Linked DNA regions of Homo sapiens. The protein of the gene in region 1 purifies or fractionates together with the protein of each later gene. This does not show direct contact. Each region holds a gene or a part of one and is shown on either strand. Other genes may lie near its edges. The genes, in order: TMEM178A and GSTCD.

Region 1 (4,390 bases):
TAATAAGTCCCATTAAATCATGGAGTAATGACATTTAGCATGTAATGAATGCCTCATAATTTCTTCATCATTAATATTTCATAGCATAAGAACACAAGCATTTTCATCCCTGGGCCAGTGCAGCATGGTTTTCTGTCTCTGACATGACCACAAGGGCATTGAGTGGCACGAGTGTATTGCACCTCTGTGGTATAGACTGACTATACCGCACAAGTGATTAACTCTTAGCACCCCGGGTCCTAGCGTTTCCTCATTTTAGAAAATGTGAATCTGCCTGCCATTCTTGGAAGTAACCTCTGTGACTGGAAGATGGAAGAACTGCCCCAGGCTCAGGTGTTGACTTTGGTGTGTAGCATTGCTTTGCTGTTGACCCCCACCCCCCAGCCCAAGAAGGAAACCTGCACAGGAGAAAATCATTACTTTGATTTATTACTGGGGGCTTGCTGTATGCAAAGGCAATAATCACCTCATGGAGCAGGTGCCACTGCCAGGGTTCATTGATTCCAGGCTCTTCTAGAAATTCCAGGAGGCCAGTCAGTCTGGCGGGAGATGGACGTAGTCAACGAAAAAAGAAGTCCATCTCATAGCAGGTTGAAATGAAGTGGGAGAAAAATCTCTGGTCATCGTTCTATCGCTCCACTGACACTCGGTGTCTTTTTCTTTCAGAAGAGGGGCTTGAGCAGAGAGAATGCTTAGAGGCTAAGCGATGGGCAAGTGAGAGGGAAAGAGCCGCGACAGATAGAGCTGGCTGCCTAGGGGTCTCAGAGGCTTCATCCTGCAGGCGGCAGGCGGCAGGACAAAGGGACCTTCGGACTCCAGATCAAGATTCCAAGGAGTTAAACGCTACCACGCAGCCCGACCTGGATGGGATTTGCTCCTGGGTACAAAACGGGACACTGATCAAAATCAACTTGGACAAGTGACAAGAGTGAGTCTTATGTCGGTGGATGTCTTTTAAGGTCGTTGGAGGGAAGAGGACGGGAGGGGTGTGCCGAGGGGTAGGTGGAGAGAGGCACCGAGTCCAGAGCCGGGATATAAATGCACCAGGAGCCGGGGAGCAGAGGAGCAAATGAGTGGGGGAAAGTGTGAGAGGAAGAGTTGGAGAAAAGTCGGGGGAAAGTAGGGACAGGGTTAAGGGGAGAGAGGAGGATGAGGGCGGCGAGGAGAGATTAAAAGGGGAAGGGGGGTCGCTGGAGAGGAGGGCGGACTGTGGATCGGAGGTAGGGAGAGGGGCGAGAGGAGTGCGCGGGGTGGGGGGCGCCGGGGCGAGGAGAGGGGGCTGGGGAAGAGGAGGGGGGCAAGAAAGCGAGAGCGGCGCGGGGGAGGGCTAGGAGCCCGGGGGCCGGGCCGGGGGCGGGCGGGCGGTGGGAGGCGAGATCAGGCCAGGGGAGAGGGAGCGAGCCGGGCCGGGCTCGCAGGGCGAGGAGGCCGTAGGAGGGAGGTGGGGGGCAGGTGGGGGGAAGAGGGAGGGAGCGGGCGGAGAGCTGGGGCCAAGTGCATTGTGTCTGGCGGCGGCGCGCGAGCCCACCGGCGGCTGCGGCGGGGCGGGAAGCCATGGAGCCGCGGGCGCTCGTCACGGCGCTCAGCCTCGGCCTCAGCCTGTGCTCCCTGGGGCTGCTCGTCACGGCCATCTTCACCGACCACTGGTACGAGACCGACCCCCGGCGCCACAAGGAGAGCTGCGAGCGCAGCCGCGCGGGCGCCGACCCCCCGGACCAGAAGAACCGCCTGATGCCGCTGTCGCACCTGCCGCTGCGGGACTCGCCCCCGCTGGGGCGCCGGCTGCTCCCGGGCGGCCCGGGGCGCGCCGACCCCGAGTCCTGGCGCTCGCTCCTGGGGCTCGGCGGGCTGGACGCCGAGTGCGGCCGGCCCCTCTTCGCCACCTACTCGGGCCTCTGGAGGAAGTGCTACTTCCTGGGCATCGACCGGGACATCGACACCCTCATCCTGAAAGGTGAGCGGCGGGCGCACCCCGCGTCCCCGGCGCCCGCGCGTGGAGCGCAGCCCGCGGCTTCCCAGGGGCGCGCCGGTCCCCGCAGCCCCCTCCCAGCCGCGGCCCCGCGCCTGGGCATTCTTGCATCCTTCCCGCCGCCTCCAGTCTTTATCTCTTCCCTTTCTTTCCCCACTGCCTCCCTTCTTCTCCCTCTCCTTGACTCTCTTCTTTCGTCCACATCCTGCGCGTCCTTTCAAGTCCGTGCCGCACCTCCCGCCTCTGTCTCCTTCTTTCCTGCCTTCGCCTCCCATTCCCCGGTTCTCTCTCTCTCCCCGTCCTTCTCTGCCTTTGTACACCTGCCTGACATGTGTGTCTTTTCTTGACGCTGCTCCCCGTGAGGGGGACTAACCGTCAAAGACTCGACTTTTCTCACCCGGGCTCCTTCCTTCAAGTTGTGCTCCTTTTGGAAATACCGTTTGGAAGAAAAGTGGTGCCGACCTCCGAAGAGAGGGAAGGGGCTTTGCCTGTATTGTGCGGATGCTGGTGTCAGACGGAACTGATGTGGTCATCCCAGCCTGGCAGGGCTGATGGGCAGCGAAGGAGGCCCCGGAACCTTCCTTCATACCCCTGAAGTGCAGGGTGTGTGTGGATTAGACTTCAGAGACCAATCGTTGGCTGGTGGAGGCTGGTGGAGGCTGCCCGAGGCAGATAGGACACCTGCTTTCCAACCTTCCTGAGGACCCCATACCCCCACCCTCCTCGCTGTCCAGGCACTGAGGAGAGAAAATGTCCTCGCCCTTTAAACTAGAGCTTTCCAGATTTGGGCACTCACTCTCTGCTTATCACTCTGTCTTCTGTTCGTGGTACCTTGTCAGGTTGTTTTTGTTGTTTGTTTTGTTTGGCACTGAGTTGCAGAGCATCAATTTGTTCTTCTGAAATCTGTGCAACACCTGTCTTCTGTGAATGCTATCAGATAGTTTGATTTTTTTTTTTTTTTTGGTAATCCCATTCACGTAAAAATATTCAGTGTGACAACTTGTGAAGCTTCCTTTAACTTTCAGAACTTGACTCAATGTATTTTTTTCCCCTTTGAGATTAAAAAAAAAAATCAACATCTCTTCTCTTGGACTCATGATGCCAAAAAAGAAAAAGTCCAAAATCAGTACATTTTAATATTTAGTAGCCATGTAGGAAAACAAACAGACGGATTTGTGTTGAGTTACAGCCTGGAATGGAATGACATAGAAAAGAGGGGGTTAATAATGTGTTGGCCTTCAGAGTCTTGCTAGTTGGCGGATTCTTCATTTCTCAAACATGTCAACTTCCTCCTTCCCATGGCTAACTCAGCTGGGGACTGCCATCCAAAATCTGTCTGCGTGTGGAAGGACTCCAGCACTTTTAGGGGAACCAGATACAGTAAAATCTTTTGGGAAGTGCACCATTTTCTTTTCTCTCCTAACTTGCATCCAAATCTGATTTCTCCTCATGAAGATGCTGCATAATTAATTCTGATAGTAGCATAGTACATGAACAAACTGTAAAAGCTGAATGTGGAGGCTCAGTTATGGAGTGCTCATTTAGGCAAGGCAATTTTGAAAGCTAAGCAGTGTAGTCTGTCTTTGGAAATGACAGAACTGCATTTCCTTACACTTTCTATGCTTAGAGTATTTGATTGCATGTAAATTGGATATAGAGCAATGCCTGAAACAGCAGGGCAGAGTCAAACCTACAGTAGAAGAGGGGACCCCCACAGGATATTGCACAATGCCTCTGCAAATGCCCTGGCTAACTGAGGTGCCAGTTCCAGGGCAGTCCAGGGTCAAATAATAGAGGTGGAAGGACTTTAGAGGTCATTGAAGTTGAACATCTACTGGTTGTTCAAATTCCCTTCTACAATCTTTCTGACAAATGGTTGTCTAGCCCAGTACTTCCGTAAGACGGAACTCATATACTCGTTAAAAGAACTAGATTTTCCCAGTCACGAATGCCTATTTTTAGATGAAAACAATCTCAGCTTTATAATATTGATGGTGTTTAGCTAATCTTTTGTGTAGAACACTGAAGAGTTCTAGGTTGTGAACAGAAGATATGGGCCCCATTGCTGGCTCTGTTGCTAAATTGCAGTGTGTTCTCCAAGTATCAAGACCTTCTTCGCCTTCGGTTTCCTTGTCTGTGGTATTATTAGGAGGGATGACTATTCTTTAGAGAAATTTCTAGTTCACATATCTGTCATTGTTATAATTAATAACAATGTAAATTTAGCTTCTTGCAAAGTTAATGAGCCAACGCTATTAAGCAATGAGGAGTTTGGAGGAAAGAACAGGCATTGGTAGATTATAGGATCATAATTTGTTGTTTGGGAGATGTCCAGAAATGCCTTGTAATGTTGCTACTAACCAACCTTGGGCTAGTTACATAATTCTTCTAGATCTCAGTTTCATCATCTGTGAAATGTAT
Region 2 (3,812 bases), on another chromosome or scaffold:
TTTTTGCCCTAGTGTTGTTACAGATCTCACTTTGTTTGACTGTTTTTAAGGACTTATAGCATAAAGGTGTTATATTAATAATGAAAATATTTCCAGAGCTCTATTCAGCTTTATAAAAAAACTCTTTGAACTTTGATCTTTAATAAATACCTTTTTGTTTTAAAATTATCTCTCAGTGACAAAAATTTTTAAAAAATAAGCTCAGGGAGAAAATGGCATCTGTAAGTTAAAAAGTTGTTGCTTTTACAGTATATAAAATAATTTTCCCCCAGATAATCTTTTAAGAAGTAACAAATCATGGTATATATCTGTTATATTTTAATAGAAGAAATATAAAATAAAGCAGTAGTGATTATTTGTATTATTAAGAAACTTAGATAATACTTTACTGACTATATTTATTTTTTATAATGGATTACAAGTTCCTTAGTTTTAAAAAATGAAGAACTAAGAAGCTTAAAGTGTTTAGGTCTTGTTTCAGATTTTTTTAAAAAAGGGATTTAAAATATTAAAGAAAATTTAGTATGATGAAGGTTTTCTAAAATTAAGTGTACACTAACATTTTGAATACACTTAAAAGACAAGAGGTGCATGTGTACTTTTTAACAGCTTTTAAAGTAATTTTCCTTCTAATATGTCATGTTTCTGGTACGTATTTCCATGGTGAATACTTTTAAAGAGTGCCATCTAGTGTCAGTTTTGGAATTGTAATTTATGTATTAGAACATTAGGAATTTTTGACCCGGGAAATGTATAAACATAAAAAGACAGGACAATTGATAAAAACCTTAAGGAATATGACTTGAAAATAGCCATGAAGAATCTGACCTCAAGACTGTGTGTGTTTGCACCTTTAACCAGTATGTATATTTATCTCTGCTTTCATTTGTCAAATACTGCTTGCTTATATATATAATAAACCTATAAAGCAGTGAACAAAAAATTTTTACTCATGGAACATTCTAGTTAGAGGAGACAAATAATAACATATAGTATATCACCATAGCAATAAGCGCTAGGAAGAAAAAACATAGATGGAAATAGAAAGGTTTTTTTCAGGGAGCGTGGGGATTGGGGTTTGTGATTTAAATTGAGTAGTCAGGGAGGATCTCAGTAAGAAGTTGCCATTGAATAAATAAATACCTGAAGGAAGTGAGGAAGTGTTCTAGGTACTGGAAACACCAAATGCAAAGGCCCTGATGTGAGAATGTACCTAGTGTTTTAGCAAGGGTCCCCAACCCCTGGGCCCAGGACTAGTATCCATCTGTGGCCTGTTAGGAACCCCACCTCAAAGTGGGAGGTGAGTGGCAGGTGAGCCAGCATTACTGCCTGAATGGCGCCTCCTGTCAGATCAGCAGCGGCATCAGATTCTCATAGGAGCTCCAACCCTCTTAACTGCACGCAGGAGGGATCTAGGTTGCACTCTCCTTATGAGAATCTAATGCCTGATGATCTGAGGTGAAACAGTTTCATCTGGAAACCATCCCCATCCCCCCACCAACCTCCCATGGAAAAACTGTCTTTCATGAAACTGGTCCGTGGTGCCAAGAATGTTGGAGATGGCTGTTTTAGAGGAATAACAATCTACTTTGGCTGGAGCAGTGAGCAATGAAGAAAGTTAATGAGACAAACTCTGAGACATAAAGGAGGATTAGATCAAGGAGATTTTTGTAGGCTGTTGCAGAAACTTTGGCTTTTCTCTAAGGAGGGTGGGAAGACCTTGGAGGGTTTGGTTATGGGGGTGTGAAGGAAAAGAATGGTGTAACCTGAGATGGGAAGACACATAAGGAGCAGGTTTGAGGGGTGGGAGAGAATAAGGAACTGGATTTTGGACAGGTTAACTTTAAGATAGCTATCAGTATCCATGTTATGGGGAAATTTAAATATTTTTATATTATGATTCAGCACTCAGCAGCTATCACTTACTTGAGGAGAATCCACTTCTCCTGAAAGAACGAATATCCCCTCCCTATTATTTTGTAGGGTCGTAAAAAAGAAGCAGTATGGAAGGACCAGCACTGTCAAAACTTCTCAAGGATATTATCCCCAGACAGCTCTCAGTATTTTTGGTTAATTTATTTCCCCTTCTATTTATCTCCTGTTCTCACATATAGTGAGACCCCAAAATACTTGATTGGGAGGGCTCTATTGCAAAGCACTGGGGTTTGCTCATTTTAAAGGAGCTGGGTGTAATATTTCCTCTAATGCTAGTTAATTGCACAGGGTGGAATTTTTTTCTTTTGGAAGTCATTTAGTCAGTCTTCAGAAACAAACCTTATAGCATTATTATCTACTGCAAATTTTTACTGATTTCTAGAACAGGCTTTTGAAACATTCATCTTTTATTTTAGCTTCTAAATGATTATATTCTAAGACCATAATCACTTCAATTTATACTTTAGGTGACCCAATGAAAGAAGAAAATGAAAGCCATAAAGAAAAGTCTTACAGAAGAAGAATACCTGTACCTGGACTTTTCTCACCAAACAGAAGGATGCATCTTTCCTCTTCATACATCTGTAACTTTATTTCTGTTATCTTACTGTGACTGTAAAATCTTTAAAATTTGCTTAGTTGTCACCAAAGAGGTGAGTAGAGATAGTTCACTACTAAGAGATGACCTGATCCAGGATGTTGAAATACAGATTATTTCAAGGCAGGAGCTCCCACCAATAGTCCAAAATTGCTGTTTGCCTGCAGTAGTAGAACGATCAGACAATTTTTGTAGAGCAGGACTTGCTGTTGTATTGAGACACATAATCCAGAAATCCTATGAAGCAGACCCCTTAAAGAAGGAACTTTTGGAACTTCTGGGCTTTAAAAAGACTTGCTTGAAAGCCTGTGCTGAAGTAAGTATAATGTCTTTTTTCTGTTATTTGAAGCTACACAGTGATAACATAATTACCTGACCATTTAATATTTTAACTTCCTATTAGGAATAAAAGTTTATTTATTTTAAAAAACCCCAGTAACCAATGAAATAAAGTAGCCCTTTGATATAGTTTGAATATTTATCCCCTCCAAATTTCATGTTGAAATGTGATCCCCAATGTTGTTGGAGGTGGGACCTGGTAGGAGGTGTTTGGGTCGTGGGGGCAGATGCCTCGTAAATGGCTTGGTGCTCTCACTGGGGTAATGAGTGAGTTCTTGCTCTATTAGTTCATGAGAGATCTAGCTGTTGAAAAGCGCCTGGTACCTCTTCCTTGCTCTCTCTTGCACCCTCTCTCCCCATGTGACATGCCTGCACTCCCTTTGCCTTCTACCATGACTAAAAGCTTCCTGAGGTCCTGATCAGAAGCAGATGCTTCTTATATAGCCTGCAGAACCATGAGCCAAATAAACCTCTTTCCTTTATAAATTACTCAGCCTCACCTATTCCTTTACAGCAATGCAAATGGGCTAATATACCCTTTACGTGTGTCAATATTTCAGTGCAGTATTGAAAAATAAGAATTTAAGTCTTAATTTATAAAGTTTGGAGACATTTTTAGAAAATAACTCTTTTTTCTTTATTTTAGTTATGTTGATTTTTAAATGGAATGTTTACATATAAATAGGAGCTCAAATAGCAATGCTTTGGAAGCCCTGCTTATTGTGGGGGCTAGGAGGAGGGTAGGACAGGGGAGGTATATTGTAAAGGCTTTGGGAAGTAATGATTTATTTAGTAAGGGGAATACAGGAATGCTAAACTTCTTTTGCTTAATGTTTTTACTTCTGAAGCACTGTGATGTGTCTCCTGATACAACATAAAAGCCTAGCCCAGGGATGATTGAGCTCAAAACTTATTTCCCAATAAGACAGTTATTTTTTCT

The links.
Region 2: the proteins of TMEM178A (region 1) and GSTCD purify together in Homo sapiens (affinity purification with mass spectrometry; one large-scale study listed by BioGRID and IntAct). This does not show direct contact.

The regions. Positions count from the first base shown.
Region 1 is NC_000002.12:39,664,421-39,668,810, forward strand, and holds the start of TMEM178A (transmembrane protein 178A isoform 1 precursor), read left to right. Parts: upstream 1-1,496; 5' UTR 1,497-1,554; coding exon 1,555-1,954; exon of another isoform or gene 1,955-4,390. UniProt on the Homo sapiens protein: Acts as a negative regulator of osteoclast differentiation in basal and inflammatory conditions by regulating TNFSF11-induced Ca (2+) fluxes, thereby controlling the induction of NFATC1.
Region 2 is NC_000004.12:105,715,191-105,719,002, forward strand, and holds part of GSTCD (glutathione S-transferase C-terminal domain-containing protein), read left to right. Parts: intron 1-2,402; 5' UTR 2,403-2,423; coding exon 2,424-2,849; intron 2,850-3,812.